2 linked regions of the Homo sapiens genome follow. Each later gene encodes a partner of the first gene's protein in a complex. Each region holds a gene or a part of one and is shown in the gene's direction. Other genes may lie near its edges.

What was found.
Region 2: ITPR1 (region 1) and CNN1 share a complex: the UniProt entries of both Homo sapiens proteins name them as parts of the cGMP kinase signaling complex.

The regions. Positions count from the first base shown.
Region 1 is NC_000003.12:4,495,510-4,504,782, forward strand, and holds part of ITPR1 (inositol 1,4,5-trisphosphate-gated calcium channel ITPR1), read left to right. Parts: intron 1-9,273. UniProt on the Homo sapiens protein: Inositol 1,4,5-trisphosphate-gated calcium channel that, upon inositol 1,4,5-trisphosphate binding, mediates calcium release from the endoplasmic reticulum (ER).
Region 2 is NC_000019.10:11,540,855-11,550,127, forward strand, and holds part of CNN1 (calponin-1), read left to right. Parts: intron 1-221; coding exon 222-343; intron 344-5,820; coding exon 5,821-5,887; intron 5,888-5,977; coding exon 5,978-6,115; intron 6,116-6,942; coding exon 6,943-7,053; intron 7,054-8,468; coding exon 8,469-8,615; intron 8,616-8,695; coding exon 8,696-8,941; 3' UTR 8,942-9,273. UniProt on the Homo sapiens protein: Thin filament-associated protein that is implicated in the regulation and modulation of smooth muscle contraction. It is capable of binding to actin, calmodulin and tropomyosin. The interaction of calponin with actin inhibits the actomyosin Mg-ATPase activity.

The DNA.
Region 1 (9,273 bases):
TTCTGTTGACTCACATGGCTGTGTGGGTGCTCATAGAGCCAAGGATTAGGCCCAGTTCCCCTTTTCAGAATTAGCTGTACAGCAAGGAAAAACTGGTCCACAGACTCTTTTCTAACTGGTTGCTAAAAATAATAAGATGGACACATTAAGTACTTGTAAGCCAGGTCCAGAGCCATGTATCTCAGAAACCCTGTGCGTCAGATGCAGGTGAAGAAACTGAGGTGCAGAGAGTGAAATCACTTGCCCAGTAGCTAGTACAAAGTAGGAGCAGGGTGTAACCTCAGGCGGTGAGGCTGTACTGCATCCCACAAATGGACCTCAGTTGATTTGGGGATGCTGGTGGTGAGAGGGAAGCTAGGAAAAATGGTAAACTTACTGCTACTGATGAAATAACTTGCATACCTCCCACCAATGATGAAATAATACATAACATTGATGTAAGAAGGAAAGGATGTAGCCACAAACATAGGGATAAAAGAGTGCAGATATTTGAGGAGGTATTAGATACTGTAATGAGTTCATTTTGGAAAGCCTGAATGGGGAGAGTAAAAAGAAACAAAACCACAAGGAACATTATGTAAGTTAAGCATTAGGCTCACCTCCTAGCTGAAATACATCTTGATTGTTTACATCAAAGAATCTGAGTAGGTTAAAAGGATCAGGCGTTTCCCCATCTGAATAATTCGAAAGTTTAAACTGCAGTTAGACTGCAATGTGAAATGTTGATACCTTTTCATATACCTTCCAGTTTGCTTTGCAGCCAGTTGTGCAGACGTTTTTGTTCTCCATTTTTTCTTTCAAGTTCATGTGTGTGTGTGTGTGTGTGTATGCATATGTACACTGAAAGTACAATCTGCTCTTTGAATAATTCAAATCAGAACAGAAAATCCTTTCAAGATATCATTCTTATCAGGCAGGGAAAGTTCTTCATGTTCTAAGTGAATTACTCTGGCTCTTGCCTTGAGACCCATGAAAGTCATTTGGGGTTGACAATGGTATCTATTTAAACCAAGTGATTGTCTTTTGGAGGGAATTGGCATCTTTTCTTTAGGAATGAGAAGTGGAATGGTTGCTTAGAAAAAAAGAGATAGATGAACTCCACAGAAAGATCAAGAGTCTTTTCTTCAAAATATTTTTAAGTGAGGAAGATCAGGGTGTTGGTATTGCGGGGAGGGAGGAGAGTGGGCAGAGAGAAAGATAAAAAAGAAACCTTTAATCCAATGGTGTGCAACCAACTGACTTCCAGAGGGGGGAATATCACATGGCTTTTCAACTCATTTATAAAGATATCATGGAAACTGTCTGATTTCTTCATGAGCAGCTCTTAGAAAACAAACAAAAATAAAACAAACACCAAATATGAACAACAGAAAAAAACAGCCAAAATAAAAGTAGGCCTGGAGTTAGGTTTCTAGGTCAAGCTGTCTTTGGCTACATCTAATTAAGGAGTCTCCACAGGGCCAGTGTCTATCTTGTTTACTATTGGTTTGATTTTTAAAAATAAAACACATTGCATTTGCAGGCTGTCTGTTAACCAGAAGTCCATGCAGTTTTTTTTTTTTCCATTTTTGCTGTTTTAAGTTTGTGCATAGCTCAATTGATGAATGCAATTAAGGCTTGAAGTCGGTGATGTGAATGACATAACTTCTATGATTCCTTACAATTCTCTTGGTTTCTGTGGTTCTGAGATGATTGCTAATGAGAATAAGCCAGATACACCACTGAAACCGTCACCCATTCAACTTTGAGATTTCTAAATTGGATGTAGTTTAAGGCACATGGTGTGGTAAATCTATTTAACAGACTCTAAGACCTGTTCAAGTTGTGTGCGATTCAAATGTTTTATTCTTTATTCAACAAATTTCTTGAGCACCTGCTATGTACTAAGATGTATTCCAGGTGCTCAGGATATAGCAATGAACAAACCATCCCGTTCCCAAGAGGCTTACATCTCAGTTGGTGGGAGGCAGCCAATATAAATAAACAAGTAAGTATTATAGTATTAGAGGTAGTAAAAGCTATGGAGAAAAAGAAAACTGGTTAAAGGGGGAACAGAAAATAACAAGTGGAGAAATTAGATCCCTTGTGCATTGCCGGTGGGAATGTAAAATGGTGAAGCTGCTGTGGAAAACAGCATGGCAGTTACTAAAAAAAATTAAACATAAAATTACTATATGTCCCAGCAATTCCACTTCAAGGTATATACTTTAAAAAATTGAAAGTAGGGACGTGAGCAGATATTTGTACACCTGTGTCAGTAGAAGCATTATCACAGTAGCCAAAAGGTAGAAACAACACAAGTCTACTGATGAATGAACAGATAAAATGTGAAATATACATACAATGGAATATTATTCAGCCTTAAAAAGGGAATTCTGACACATGCTACAATGTGGATGAACCTTGAAAACATGCTAAGTGAAACAAGCCAGAAATAAAAGGACACATATTTTATGATTTTTCTTATAGAGGCATCTAGAGTAGTCAGATCCCTGCAGACAGAAAGTAGAATGGGGATTGCTGGGGGAGATAGAAGACAGGAAGGGGGAGTTAGTGTTTATTGAGGATAGAGTTTCAGTTTGGAAAGATGAAAAAGTTCTGGAAATGGATGGTGGTGATGTCACACAACAGTGTGAATGTACTTAGTGCCACTGAGTTATAACATTTCAAAGTGGTATATTTTATGTTATGTATATTTTACAGTAATTTTAAAAAGCAACAAAACATGATGAGGGGTATTAAGGGAGTACTCAGGTGGGGATTAGATCTTTACTACATGACATCTCAGCACAGATCTGAAGGAGGCAAACGAGTTGACCCTGTAGCTGTCAGGGAAAAAGTGTGTTCCAAATGTCAGAGCAGCAAGTACAGAGGCCCTGAGATAGGAGTGTTTGTGACATGTTGGAGGAAGGAGAAGAAGGCCAGGGGAGAGTGCTAGGAGTTCAGGAGGGAGAGGGAGTCAAGGTCCAGACCTGTAGGGACCAGATTTTGCAGGTCAACAGTGGTTTATCTGAGGACTTGTAAACTCTCACGGAATTCTCAGTGTGGTTTTCAACATCACAAAACTACATTGTCCTTTCTGAAGAGACTCTGGTAAGGTTGGCAGGATCACATACCAGATGGGAACTCGATAGGGGGTAAAACCCAGATTTCTGGACTGTCTGGTTAATGACAGGACTTACCTGGAGTTGTAATTCACTTCAGTAGAAAAGGAAAGTTTGACAAATAGGTGAACGTACAGTTGACTTGGAGAGCAAATTGTAAGAACATAATGATAATCCTGGAGTTTCAACACAAACCTATGTCTTACCGCCACCCTGCGTTGTATCCAGTGTCGTTTTAAGAGATATTTACAAGGAGGACTAATATTCTGCTCTCCAGCATCCTTGAGGAATTAGAAGCTTCACATCAGTGATTCTCCTTAATAAGTGAAGTGGACCCCTGCACATGTGCAAACTTAAAGCAAACCTCAAATTTTGTTACTTATTACATAAGATATACATATTCATGTAGCACACACCTTGGACTCGGCTACTCAGGGGACGGAGGCAGGAGAATTACTTGAGCCCGGGGGTTTGAGGCTGTAATATACTATGATTGCATCTGTGATAGCTACTGTACTCCAGCAAGACCCCATCTCTGTTAAAAAAATTTTTTTAAGGAGAAAAAGATAGCATATTCATTGTAGTGCAACATTAGGAAATAAAGAGGAGCAATGAAACAAAACAAAACAATTCAACTATTAGAGATTAGGGTTTCAGGCTTTTCCTCTAAGTATGCATATGTAAAATTTACGTATATATTTAAATTTCATAAAAAGGGACTAACACAGTATCTCTCATTTGGTAAATTACCTTTTGTACATCTTGAACATCTTTTTAATAAACAGACATCTGTGTCTCATTTTTCTAAATGTGCCTACCCCTTTGATGGCCTTTCATTTTTATTGAGTCTAGGTTTATACTTCCCTGATATATATACATATATAAATAGATATTTGTAAAAAATACATAATATAATAATTTTACACATACACGTATTTAACAGTTTGAATTAGGATCCAAATAAGGTAAATACATTACAAATGGTTGATGTTCACTAATCTCTGTATTTCCTCTACAGATCTTTTTTCCATGCATTTTTTTTGTTGTTATCGAAGAAACTGGGTGATACACGTCTCCACAGTTTAGACTTTGCTGACTGCATCAGTGCAATGTGGTTTAACATGTTTCTGTATCCCCTTGGGGTACCATAATTTGGTAGTTAGATGTAGAGGCTTCATCAAAGTTAGGTTCTTTTCTTTTTTAAATTGAGAAGGGGTCTCACTATGTTGCCTCGGCTGGCCTTGGACTCCTGGTCTCAAGCAGTCTTCCTGTGCCAGCCTTCCCAGTAGCTGGGACTCCAGTAAGTCTGCTCTGTAAACTTTGCTTAGGTGGGTGTGAGATGTTGGATGTCTACTCTTGTTATATGAGCACCCCTTGATGCTCACTACCTGAATCCATTAGTTCTCTCGTCAGTGAGAAATGGGCTGGTAAAGTTCCTGAGATTTCGACACAGCCCTTGTTGTCTTTGCTAGCTTTTTTGATTTCTGTATAACAAGATGTTCCAGGCTCATCTTCTCTATTTCTTATCCCAGACCAAGAATCGGCCTTTTCTCCAAGGAGCCTTTGCTCTTTTAAGAGGGAAATTTTGTTTGTTTTGTTTTTTTGAGACAGAGTCTTACTCTGCTGCCCAGGCTGGAGTGCAGTGGCATGATTTCAGCTCACTGCAACTTCTGCCTCTTGGGCTCAAGCTACCCTCTCACCTAATCCTCCTGAGTAGCTGGGACTATGGGCATTCACCACCACACCTGGCTAATCTTTTTTGTTTTTTTGTAGGGACGGGATCTCGCCATGTTGTCCAGGATGCTCTCAAACACCTAGGCTCAAGCAGTGTTCTCACCTTGACCTCCCAAAGTGTTGGGATTACAGGCGTGAGACCATCATGCCTGGCCAAAATGGTATTTAGAGATCTCCACCTAGGGCCAAGTAGGTACTCTTGTCATCCTCATCTTACAGACGAGAAGACAAATTAAAATGAAGAAAACTTAAAACTTGAATTTCCTAGGTGAAAGTATTTCCAAAATGCAATTGACCTATCCTTGCCTTTTTGCAAAGAATTCTGAATATAATCTAAACTTTTTTTAAAAATTGGTTTTGGGTTTAGCCTTAGTGTCCTGAGGCTAAGACATCATTGTTCTCCCCAGATGAGCAGGAATGTTACTCTTGTTCTGTATCCGTGTTTTTCAAACTCTGTGGAAACCCACTAAGAGGTTGTTAAATCAATTTAGTGGGCCTTGATGAACTTTTTATTTTTAGTTTTTGAAACAGGGTCTTGCTCTGTTGCCAAGGCTGGAGTACAGTGACATGATGTTGGCTCACTGCAGCCTCAACCTCCCAGGCACAAGCGATCCTCTCACCTCGGTCTCCTGAGTAGTTGGGACCACCAGCGTGCCCCACCACTCCTGGCTAATTTAAAAAAAAAATTTTTTTTTGTAGAGATTGGGTCTCCCTGTATTGTCCAGGTTGGCCTTGAACTTCTAGGCTCAAACGATCCTCTCGCCTTGGCCTCCCAAAGTGCTGGGACTGGAGGTGTGAGTCACCGGGCCCAGCCAAACTTTTTTTTTTTTTAATGACATGCACTAGAATAGAAAACATGGAAGTGTATTTCGTGGATACTTAAAAAGAACTGTGTATGTTGCAACAAAATTCTTTGTCTCACATACACAATGAACATTGGGTTGTAAGTTCAATAGTTTTCTTACTCTGAGCTGCAGTCAAAAGTTTGAGAAACACTGTACTACATCTTTGCCACTCCAAGTGTGGTCCCCAGACCAGCGTTACTGACATTAACTGGGAACTTGCTAGCAATTGCAGACTCTCAGACCCTACTCCACATTCAATGAATGAGAACCTACATTTTTGCAAGATCCTCAAGTGATTCACACACACGTGAAAATACGAGAAGATATGCATTGGAGGATGCCTGTCCCTGTGCTTTTTCAGTCCTTGTCATTTAGTGGTTCCTTTGCTTTTTCATGGCTAGCTCTCACCTGTTCAGGCTGAAGCTGACCTTTGTACTTTTCCCCTGCAGCCTTATTTTCAGTGAAGTGGAAAGGTAGGCTAATCACCAACCTGAGGTGAGAGTAAGTAGTTTTCACATGATTCCCTCTCCAACAAACATGGGAACTTTGATGCTTACATTTGGGGGAGCTTTTATTCGCTGTTCACATGAAGGCAGAAAGAGACCAGAAGGCACATGTACCCCTACTTAGAGTTGTGAAGTCACTGCTGTTCACCTGCTGTCATGGGACAATGAGGAACTTATGTTTTATCATACTTTCTGACCTGTCCCATCAGCAGAACTTCTGGATGGCTTGATATAATGCGGCTTATCAGAAGAAGATGAACATAAGAAAAATATCACTAGTCTCCAAGTTTCTTGCTGTTCTTTTGCATTTCAGAAGGAGCTTTGTCTGGGAAATGATTTTCTTTTGCAAGAACAGCTTAAAAGCATCCCAAGCACATATTTCTGAACAGAAAAAGCTGATACGACACCCAGACGACGGACATTCATTTGTTTGCCTTGTCGTGTGTGTGTATGTTGTACCTCATGTGTCCCTCCCCACCCCCGTCTGTCCACCTCGCCAGATCCTTCTATTCCTTAGGGCCCAGCCCAAACGCTTCCTCCTCCGGGAAGTTTTTTATGATACTTGAAAATCTGTCATTTGAAACTCCAGGGCCCTAAAACCTATTTTCCTTTTGGGCCTTTTGTGTTTTTTTAACTCATAAGAATACCTGGCACACAGGAAGTGCTTACACAATAAGTAATTTGTATATATGTTTTTTCTCCCTTTGAAGGCTGCTTGGAAAAACTAATTTTTTGTACCCCTCTCTCCTTTTTTTTTTTTTGAGAAGGAATCTCGCTCTGTCACCAGGCTGGAGTGCAGTGGCCTGATCTCAGCTCACTGCAACCTCCGCCTGCCAGGTTCAAGCGATTCTCCTGCCTCAGCCTCCTGAGTAGCTGGGTCTACAGGCATGTGCCACCATGCCTAGCTAATTTTTATATTTTTAGTAGAGATGGGATTTCACCATGTTGGCCAGGATTGTCTCGATCTCTTGACCTCATGACCTGCCCACCTTGGCCTCCCGAAGTGCTGGGATTACAGGCGTGATCCACTGCGCCTGGCCCCTGTACCCCTCTCCTGATTAAATATTTCTTGAACTGGCATCTTTCTTTGAAAAGCCTTACAGCCAGGCATCGTGGCTCACGCCTGTAATCCTAGCACTTTGGGATGCCAAGGTGGGTGGGTCACCTGAGGTCAGGAGTTTGAGACCAGCCTGGCCAACATGGTGAAACCCCATCTCTACTAAAATTACAAAAAAAATTAGCTGGGCATGATGGTGGGCACCTGTAGTCCCAGCTACTTGGGAGGCTGAGGCAGGAGAATTGCTTGAATTCAGGAGGTGGAGGTTGCAGTGAGCTGAGATCGCACCACTGCACTCCAGCCTGGGGGGCAGAGTGAGACTCCATCTCAATAAAAAGAAAAAAAGAAAAGCCCTTTATTGCAGAGGGTGACGTGAGGACCATGTAGAGATATTAAGCATTTCCTTTTGATAGCTTTTGAGGTGTTGTTCAGTACAAATCTCTGCAGGACATTTGTCTTGGGAAACTGTTGAGTATTCATAAAAGGGAGTGGAAAAATCAGGTAGTGAAACCAAGCTGCTTTCAGGTCATATTGGTATTGCCCTGGTGAGCCACAGGATGGGGACTCCGCAGTACCGAGTGTTGACTGCTTCTTGGGTAAGGGGCAAAACATGGAACATCTGTGCATCTGTTTCCTCTTCTGTAGAATAGGTGTAAAAATAAAAATACCTGCTTCGGGTCATTGCTGCCGAGTTGTCTAAAAACAAATGTTTGCAGAAGGCGTTACAGATAAAAAAACAAAGCAAAACCTATCTATGTCCTAGAGCAGTGGTCTCAATGGGGACAGGGAGAGTGATTTGTGTCCTCCAGGGGACATTTGGTATCGTCTGGAGATATTTTTGGTTGTTCTATCTGGCAGGCAGGGGTGGGGTGCTACTGGCATTTTGTGAACAGATCCTATGGTGCACAGGATAGCCCCCCACTCCCCTGCCCCACCACACACACACGCAACGGAGACCTCTCTGCCCTAGAATGTCAGTAGTGAACCGGTTAAGAAACCCTGTCCTTGAGTGAATTTTTCTGGCTTGGTGAGACTTTTGTCTCTCTCTGAGGATATTGACCTAACTTCATTTGCTGGTTTTTTGAGGTTTGGGCTATGTGGGCAGAGGGGTGTCTCTTCAGGCTGGGACTGACTTCAACTTTTTAACAAAATAAGCACCCTCCCCCTCTCGCCCCCTCCCAAAACCAAAAAACACTGGCCTTGGTATCTGGAGCCCTGTGGTCTATCTTTGGGCACTCATCAGCTGTGTGACCTCCAAGAAATCACTAGGCCTCAGGTTTGTTTTTTCTACCCGTAAATTAAAGAGTTTTAGCTAAATGCCCTCCACTCACCAAATCTGCAGCTCTTTGCCTTGGAAATATTGAGCTTTTGGTTGGCTTCTCTTACTTTGGCCTTGAAGAATAGAAGCCATGAGACCAAATGTCAGTGCGGGCATCTTTTTTTGAGAAATAACTTTGTAGATATTGTACCTGGTTGGGGAAAAGGTTATTTAGCAGACATGTCTGAAAAAGCGAGTAGGTTTATTTTTGTGTGTGTATGTGTGTTGCGGCGGGGGGAATGGAGAATGAGCAACGTTGTATTATACTAGAGAATCACTCCTCTGAACTTCAGATTTACAGCTGCTGTTTCTGGGAGGCCATGAAGGGCCTTGCTTAAAGATGAAACTTCTGAGTTGGTGACTTCCTTTGGGACTGCCTGAAAACGAAAGCATAATACAATTTTCTATGCTCCCAGAGAAGTGCTTTTTGCAAGAGAATAAATTATCTGATGATGGGGACATGCTGCATTTCTGAGGACGATCTGATTAGCAGCTAATGGGACAAGAAGGCAAGGAGGGGGAGCTGTGTGAAAACGTGTGGGGAGGAGGGTGGCATTATGTCCAAGTCAAAAATGTGCTGTTCCTCCTCATTTCACAATAAAGATGATATCGCCAAGCATCTTTGCTCAAAGGAAGTCCAAAATTAACCCTGAGTGCCCAGGAACAGGAGCAGAGACTGTTGTAAAGGGAGCCTTTTTCTCCCTCTTGA
Region 2 (9,273 bases), on another chromosome or scaffold:
AATGCCCGGAATGGCCCCCTGGGCAGGTGCCACCTCAGCCCTGGCTCTCAGCCCGCCCCAGCCCCCATCCCCCAACTATGGATCTGGGGCAAAATTGCCTTAGTTGGGAAGGACGAGGGAGATCAGGCTCTAGGAAGTTCAGACAGGACCCAGGGAGCCCAGGCTGCCCCCAATGCATCCTCACCCCTTTCTCTGTGCCCCCTGCCCTCCCCTCGCCCCAGCTGGCCCAGAAGTATGACCACCAGCGGGAGCAGGAGCTGAGAGAGTGGATCGAGGGGGTGACAGGCCGTCGCATCGGCAACAACTTCATGGACGGCCTCAAAGATGGCATCATTCTTTGCGAGTGAGTGAGGCTCTCGAAGCCGAGACCCTGCAACATCCCCCAACTCCATGCAGCCCCTCAACCCCCAAAACAACCATGATCCTGGAACTGAGTTGAACACTTTCTATTGGATACCTTTGGGGTGGCCAGTAATCATTGTGCCCATTTAACAGGCACAGAAAACTGAGGCTCAGGTGAAATGCATTGCACCAAGTCCCACGTGGTTTCAAGGGAAATGACTCTAGAATCTTAACCACCATGCTATATAGGGTAGGCCCATCTGTGGCCGCCAGAGTCCCCAGAAAGAGCGGTCACAGCTAAAAGGCAGCAGCCAACAGCTGTTCATGGCTGGCTTGGTGATGTGAGGAGAGATGTGCAGCAATAATTAAAGGAGGCCCTGGTTTTCTTTCTGTTTTCTTTTTGTTTTTTTGAGATACAGTCTTGTTCTGTTGCCCAGGCTGCAGTGCAGAGACACAATCTCGGCTCACTGCAACCTCCGCCTCCAGGGTTTAAGTGATTCTCCTGCCTCAGCCTCCCCAATAGCTGGGATTACAGGCACGCACCACCATGCCTGGCTAATTTTTGTATTTTTTTAAAGTAGAGATGGGGTTTCACCATGTTGGCCAGGATGGTTACGAACTCCTGACCTCAATTGATCCACCTACCTCAGCCTCCCAAAGTGCTGGGATTACAGGCACGTGCCACCATGCCCGGTTAATTTTTGTTTTTTTTTTTTTTTTTTCAGTAGAGATGGAGTTTCACCATGTTGACTAGGCTGGTCTTGAACTCCTGACTTCAAGTGATCCACCTGCCTTGGCCTCCCAAAGTGCTGGGATTGCAGGCACATGCCACCACGCCTGGCTAATTTTTGTATTTTTTTTTTTTTTTTTTAGTAGAGACAGTGTTTCACCATGTTGACCGGGCTGGTCTCAAACTCCTGACCTCAAGTGATCCACCTGCCTCGGCCTCCCAAATTGCTGGGATTACAGGCATGAGCCACCTCGCCCGACCTTCTTCTTCTTCTTCTTTTTTTTGAGATGGAGTCTTCCTCTGTCACCCGGGCTGGAGTGCAGTGACATGATCTCAGCTCACTGCAACCTCTGCTTTCCGGGTTCAAGTGATTCTTGTGTCTCAGCCTCCTGAGCAGCTGGGATTACAGGTGCCCACCACCTTGCCCGGATAACTTTTGTATTTTTAGTAGAGACGGGATTTTGCCATGTTGGCCTGGCTGGTCTCGAACTCCTGACCTCAAGTGATCCACCCGCCTTAGTCTCACAAAGTGCTGGCATTACAGGCATGAACCACTGCACCCTGCCGGCCCTGGTTTTCTCCTCGCCTCAAAACCTCATTGCTGAGGGAGGTGAAAACCCTAACAGCTCCCAAGCCCCAGTTCCACTGCAATCTTTTTTTTTTTTTTCAGATGGAATCTTGCTTTGTGACCCAGGCTGGAGTGCAGTGGCATGATCTTGGCTCACTGCAAGCTCTGCCTCCCAGGTTCAAGCAATTCTCCTGCCTCAGCCTCCTGAGTAGCTGGGATTACAGGTGCCCGCCACCACGCCCAGCTAATTTTTGTATTTTTAGTAGAGACGGGGTTTCACCATGTTGGTCAGGCTGGTCTCGAACCCCTGACCTTGTGATCCACCCACCTCGGCCTCCCAAAGTGCTGGGATTATAGGCGTGAGCCACCGCGCCCGGCTCCACTGCAATCTTAATGCATAGCAGGGCCCTAAACCCAGCCTGCGCCCGATCTGCATTTGAGTCTGACCCAGGGCAGAGTGACTGTGAGTGGCCTCGGGAAGACTTTGAAGGTGCAGCTTCATCAAGTCCTAGATGCTGGGAAGAAGGGGTGTGGGGGGTGTTTACCTTGTTCCATTCCCATCCACTAGGAACAAGGAATTGGCAGGTGGGGAGGTAGGCATGCTGGTGTCCCAGCTCAGGCAGAGGACTGCTCAGACGTCAAACAGTGCAGTCCCAGCCTGGGCAACATAGCCAGATTCCATCTCTACAAAACATTTTTGTTTTAATTAGCTTGGCATGGTGGCATGCGCCTGTGGTCCCAGCTACTCGGAAGGCTGAGGTGGGAGGATCGCTTGAGCCCTGGAGGTCAAGGCTGCAGTGAGCTATGATCGCGCCACTGCACTCCAGCCTGGGCAACAGTGAAACCCTGTCTCAAAAAAAAAAAAACTAATGTAAACGACAAGTTGATGGGTGCAGCAAACCAACATGGCACATGTATACCTATGTATCAAACCTGCACGTTGTGCATGTGTACCCTAGAACTTAAAGTATAATAATAATAATAATAATAATAATAAAAGAGTGGGCCGGGCGCGGTGACTCACGTCTGTAATCCCAGCACTTTGGGAGGCTGAGGCAGGCGGATCACGAGGTCAGGAGATCAAGACCATCCTGGCTAACACGGTGAAACCCTGTCTCTACTAAAAAAAATACAAAAAATTAGCCGGGCGTGGTGGCAGGCGCTTGTAGTCCCAGCTACTCGGGAGGCTGAGGCAGGAGAATAGCGTGAACCCGGGAGGCGGAGCTTGCAGTGAGCCGAGATCCCACCACTGCACTCCAGCTTGGGTGACAGAGCGAGACTCCGTCTCAAAAAAAAAAAAAAAAAAAAAGACCTAATGTAAATGACGAGTTGATGGGTGCAGCAAACCAAAATGGCACATGTATACCTATGTATCAAACCTGCACATAGTGCACATGTACCCCAGAAGTTAAAGTATAAGAAAAAAAAAAAGAGTGTAGTGCAGTCACCCACGCACTCCGGTCATTCACTCATTCATTCATTCATTCATTCACAAAAGAAGCATTTATGAGTTCCTGCTGTGTGCCAGGCTCTGGCCTAGGCACTGGGAACAGTGAACAGAACAGACTCGACTCAGAGCTCAAGGACTTTTAGTCCAGTTGAGGAGATCAATCATATAATTGATCAAATAATCACAGATTTGTGGTCGTAAGTGTCCTGGGGAAAACTCAAGCGGAAGGGAAGATGGGAGGGTCAGGTATATGTCTGCGGGTGGAGAGTCTGCAGTTTCCTAGAGAGTGGTCTGGGAGGCCTCTCTGAAGAGGTGACATTTGAACAGAACCTTAGATGAAGTGAGGGAGGGCTCAGGGGACCTGAGGCAAAGCAGAGGGGGCCACCAGTGCAAAGGCGTGAGGTAGGATCGTGCTTGGGGTGTTCAAGAAACAAGAAGGAGGCTGGCGTGACGAGCACCAAATGATTGAGCAGAAGTGGAGATGAAGTCGCAGAGTGAACTGAGAGTCAGATGGTGGAGGGCATTTTATTTCATTTATTTATTTAGAGACAGAGTCTTGCTCTGGTGCCCGGGCTGGAGTACAGCGGTGCAATCATAGCTCACTACAGCCTCGACTTCCTAGGCTCAACTGATCCTCCCACCCCAGCCTCTTCAGCCCCAGCCTCCTCAGTAGCTGGAACTACAGGCACACATCACCACGCCCGGTGAAGTTTTCGGGTTTTTTTTTTTTTTTTTTTTGTAGAGACACGGGTCTCACCATGTTGCCCAGGCTGATCTGAAACTCCTAGGCTCAAGCCATCCTCCTGTCTCGGCTTCCCAAAGCACTGGGATTACAGGTGTGAGCCACTGTGCCCAGTTCTACAGAGGGCATTTTAGGCAGAGGACTTAGGATTTCATTCTGAAGGCAATGGGAGGCTCCTGGAGGATTTGGAACTGGACGGTAACTTGAACTGTTTAAAAAAGGCCATTCTGGGCCAGGGGCAGTGGCTCATGCCTGTAATCCCAGCACTTTGGGAGGCTGAGGTGGGCATATCACTTGAGGTCAGGAGTTCGAAACCAACCTGACCAACATGGTGAAACCGCGTCTCTACTAAAAATACACAAAATTTAGCTGGGCATGGTAGCAGGCACCTGTAATCCCAACTACTTAGGAGGCTGAGGCAGGAGAATTGCTTGAACCCAGGAGACAGAGGTTGCAGTGAGCCGAGATCCCGCCACTGCCTTCCAGCCTGAGTGACAGAGCAAGACTCCATCTCGGAAAAAAAAAAAAAAATTCTGGCTGCTGGATGAAGAAGGGTGGGTCTGTAGGGGATGAAGTGGAAGTTGGGAGCTCATTACAAGAGGCCAGGAAACAGACTCTGGTGGCTGAGACCCAGGTGGAGGTGGCGGGGAGCAGTGGGTGGTTTTCTGGACTCATTAAAAGGCAGAGCCAAAGAACTTTGGAGGGACTGGACATGAGGCTGAGAGAAGGAGAAAGGGGGAGTTGGGGGCAAGTCCAAGGGCTCTGGCTGAGCACCTAGAAGGGGGCACTGCTAGGCAGGGAAGGTGGAGGGAGGGGGGAGTCTGGAGGGGGAAGCTGCATGTCAGGAGTCTGGAGCAGGGTGAGTTTGATTTGAGACACCCAGGCACCCATGGAGAGAGCTGAATGAGATGGTAAGAAACCCAAGCTGCAGGGAGATGAGGGAGTTGCTGGCATATGGAGGCACTTAAAGTCAAGACACTGAATGAGGCCAGGTGCTGTCACTCATGCCTGTAATCCCAGCGCTTTGGGAGGCTGAGGCAGGAGGATCGCTTGAGCCCAGGAGTTCAAGACCAGCTTGGGCAATACAAATACAGTGAAACCCCCTCTCTACCAAAAAAAAAAAAAAAAAAAAAGCCAGGCATGGTGGTGCGCACCTGTGATCCCAGCTACTCGGAAGGCTGAGGTGGGAGGATCGCTGGAGCCTGGGAAGTTGAGGCTGCAGTGAGCTGTGATTGCACCACTGCTCTCCAGCCTGGGCGACAAAGCCACACCCTGCATCAAAAAGAAAAAAAAAAGAAAAGAAAAGAAAAAAGAGGCGAGATCATTAAAGGAGTGAGTCAGAGAAGAGGCCCTTGTGGGCTTCCTGCTGTCTACAAGAGAAAAGGATGCTGAGACACGCCTGCCAGTGAGGCTTCGGAGATCCCAGAGACTCGGACACACCTTGGATAAGCAGGCTTTCTGACTGGGACCTGAGTCTAGCTCCTTGGCATCAGTGTCCCATTTGTGTGTGTGCTTGGGTGGTTTGGAGGGGCTGCAGCTGAGAGCTGACTGCAGGGAGAAGTGACGCTAGGGTATGGCATGGCCCCTTGTGGTCATCCCGTCACCCTCCTCCTGCTGGGCTGGGCTGGAGAGCGGGAGTGGGGGACACCTTTCTTTCTTTTTTTTTTTTTTTTGAGACGGAGTCTCGCTCTGTCCCCAAGCTGGAATGCAGTGCTGCAATCTCAGCTCACTGCAACCTCCGCCTCCTGGGTTCAAGTGATTGCCTCAGCCTCCTGAGTAGCTGGGAGTACAGGCATGTGCCACCACGCCTGGCTAATTTTTGTATTTTTAGTAGAGATGGGGTTTCACCATGTTGGCCAGGATAGTCTCGCTCTCCTGACCTCGTGATCCACCCGCCTTGGCCTCCCAAAGTGCTGGGATTACAGGCGTGAGCCACCGTGCCCAACCCTGGGGGGACACCTTTCTTACCCCTTCCCCACTCTTCTCAGATTCATCAATAAGCTGCAGCCAGGCTCCGTGAAGAAGATCAATGAGTCAACCCAAAATTGGCACCAGGTGAGCCCAGACACAATCTCTTCCATCCTTGCCCGCAAGCCCCTCAGACCTCCCCTCCCCACCCAGTGACCACCACCTGCCCCCCTCTAGCTGGAGAACATCGGCAACTTCATCAAGGCCATCACCAAGTATGGGGTGAAGCCCCACGACATTTTTGAGGCCAACGACCTGTTTGAGAACACCAACCATACACAGGTGCAGTCCACCCTCCTGGCTTTGGCCAGCATGGTGAGTGTGGTTGCAGGCTGGGCAGGGGGTGGTGGGCAGCCTGGGCTGGGATGCAGGTGTGGCCACTTGTGCTCCTGAGCCCAGTGAAGGTGGCGGAGCGGGGGGCAGGGATCGGGGAGCAGGTGCTGTCAACAGCGTCCAAGGGGGCCGGGCGCGGTCGCTCACACCTGTAATCCCAGCACTTTGGGAGGCCAAGGTGAGCGGATTGCTTGAGGCCGGGAGTTTGAGACCAGTCTGGCCAACATGGTGAAATCCCGTCTCTACTAAAAATACAAAAATTAGCTGGACGTGGTGACGCATGCCTGTAATCCCAGCTACTCAGGAGGCTGAGGCAGGAGAATCGCTTGAACCCGGGAGGCGGAGTCTGCAGTGAGCCGAGATCGTGCCACTGCCCAGCCTGGGTGACAGAGCCAAGACTCCGTCTCAAAAAAAAAAAAACAAAAAACAAAAAACAGTGTTGGCCGGGCACGGTGGCTCACGCCTGTAATCCCAGCACTTTGGGAGGCCGAGACAGGTGGATCACAAGGTCAGGAGATTGAGACCATCCTGGCTAACATGGTGAAACCCTGTCTCTACTAAAACTACAAAACAAAATTAGCCGGGCATGGTGGCAGGCGCTTGTAGTCCCAGCTACTAGGGAGACTGATGCAGGAGAATGGTGTGAAGCCGGGAGGCGGAGCTTGCAGTGAGCTGAGATCACGCCACTGCACTCCAGCCTGGGCAACAGAGCGAGACTCTGTGTCAACAACAACAAAAAAACAGTGTCCAAGGGGACTGTGCAGCCTGGAGGCCCCCTTGTCAGTCCCTGCTTTCCCTGCCCCACCTAGGCGAAGACGAAAGGAAACAAGGTGAACGTGGGAGTGAAGTACGCAGAGAAGCAGGAGCGGAAATTCGAGCCGGGGAAGCTAAGAGAAGGGCGGAACATCATTGGGCTGCAGGTACCGCCCTGTCCTCACTGCGCAGAGGTCATAGAGGCCAGGAGGGCACCCTGATGTCTGAAGGCTTTTGGGGACAGGATATTTGGCATTAACTATACTATAGGCCGGGTACTGTGCTTATGCTCATCTTCCATTCACAAACTCACTCACTCTGCCAACACCCCAGCAGACAGGTGCTTGTTATCAACATACCCTTTCCGCAGATGAGAAAACTGAGACCCGGAGAAGCTGGCTCGCTTTTGCACAGATCTTCCAGCTGATGCGTGGCAGGCTGGAACTTCAATGCTAGAAGTCAGTCATGTGATAGGCCCACTCTGGGCCTCAGTTTCCAGTCTCGAAAGGATGCCTCAGGCGGGGTGCAGTGGCTCACACCTGTAATTCCAGCACTTGGGGAGGCTGAGGCAGGAGGATTGCTTGAGGTCAGGTGTTTCAGACCAGCCTGGGCAAAATAGAACCCCCCTCCACCGCCATCTCTACAACAAATTTAAGAGTTTAGCCAAATGCAGTGGTGTCTGCCTGTGGTCCCAGCTACTTAGGAGGCTGAAGTGGGAGAATCACTTGAGCCCAGGAGTTCAAGGTTACAATGATTGCATCACTGGACTCCAGCCTGGGCGACAGAGTGAGACCCTGTCTCTAAAAATGAAAATGGGCTGGGTATGGTGGCTCATGCCAGTAATCCTAGCACTTCGGGAGGCCGAGGCAGGCGGATCACTTAAAGTCAAGAGTTCAAGGCCAGCCTGGCCAACGTGGTGAAACCCTGTCACTACCAAAAATACAAAAACTAGCCGGTGTGGTGGGGCACACCTGTAGTCCCAGCTACTCAGGAGGCTGAGGCAGGAGAATTGCTTGAACTCAGGAGGCAGAGGTTGCAGTGGGCCAAGATTGTGCCGCTGCACTCCAACCTGGGCGACAGAGTGAGATGCTATCTCAAATAAAATAAAATAAAACAAAAAAATAGAATAGAACAAAATAAAATATAAAAATAAACTAAAAAATGGGCCAGGCACAGTGGCTCACCCCTGTAATCCCAGCACTTTGGGAGGGTGAGGTGGGTGGATCACCTGAGGTCAGGAGTTCGAGACCAGCGTGGCCAACATGGTGAAACCCCATTTCTACTAAAAATACAAAAAATTATCCGGGCATGGTGATGCCCACCTGTGATCCCAGCTACTCCGGAGGCTGAGGCAGGAGAATTGCTTGAATGTGCAAGATGGAGATTTCAGTGAGCTGAGATCATGTCACTGCACTCCAGCCTGGGCAACAGAGCAAGACTCCGTCTCAAAAAAAAATAAATAAAATAAAATAAAAATTGAAAAAAATGATAAAGCGGCGCCTCATCCTCTCCCATCAGCTATGCCTCATGGCCCATGATGAGGTCTGTAATTATTGGTGTGATTCTCCTTCTGGCTTCCTAGATGGGCACCAACAAGTTTGCCAGCCAGCAGGGCATGACGGCCTATGGCACCCGGCGCCACCTCTACGACCCCAAGCTGGGCACAGACCAGCCTCTGGACCAGGCGACCATCAGCCTGCAGATGGGCACCAACAAAGGAGCCAGCCAGGTGAGTGGGGGCCCCCGGGACACGCCGTCAAGGCCCAGGACCCTGGCCACCCCACGGCCTGACCACACCACCCTTCGCAGGCTGGCATGACTGCGCCAGGGACCAAGCGGCAGATCTTCGAGCCGGGGCTGGGCATGGAGCACTGCGACACGCTCAATGTCAGCCTGCAGATGGGCAGCAACAAGGGCGCCTCGCAGCGGGGCATGACGGTGTATGGGCTGCCACGCCAGGTCTACGACCCCAAGTACTGTCTGACTCCCGAGTACCCAGAGCTGGGTGAGCCCGCCCACAACCACCACGCACACAACTACTACAATTCCGCCTAGGGCCACAAGGCCTTCCCTGTTTTCCCCCCAAGGGAGGCTGCTGCTGCTCTTGGCTGGACCCAGCCAGGCCCAGCCGACCCCCTCTCCCTGCATGGCATCCTCCAGCCCCTGTAGAACTCAACCTCTACAGGGTTAGAGTTTGGAGAGAGCAGACTGGCGGGGGGCCCATTGGGGGGAAGGGGACCCTCCGCTCTGTAGTGCTACAGGGTCCAACATAGAGCCGGGTGTCCCCAACAGCGCCCAAAGGACGCACTGAGCAACGCTATTCCAGCTGTCCCCCCACTCCCTCACAAGTGGGTACCCCCAGGACCAGAAGCTCCCCCAGCAAAGCC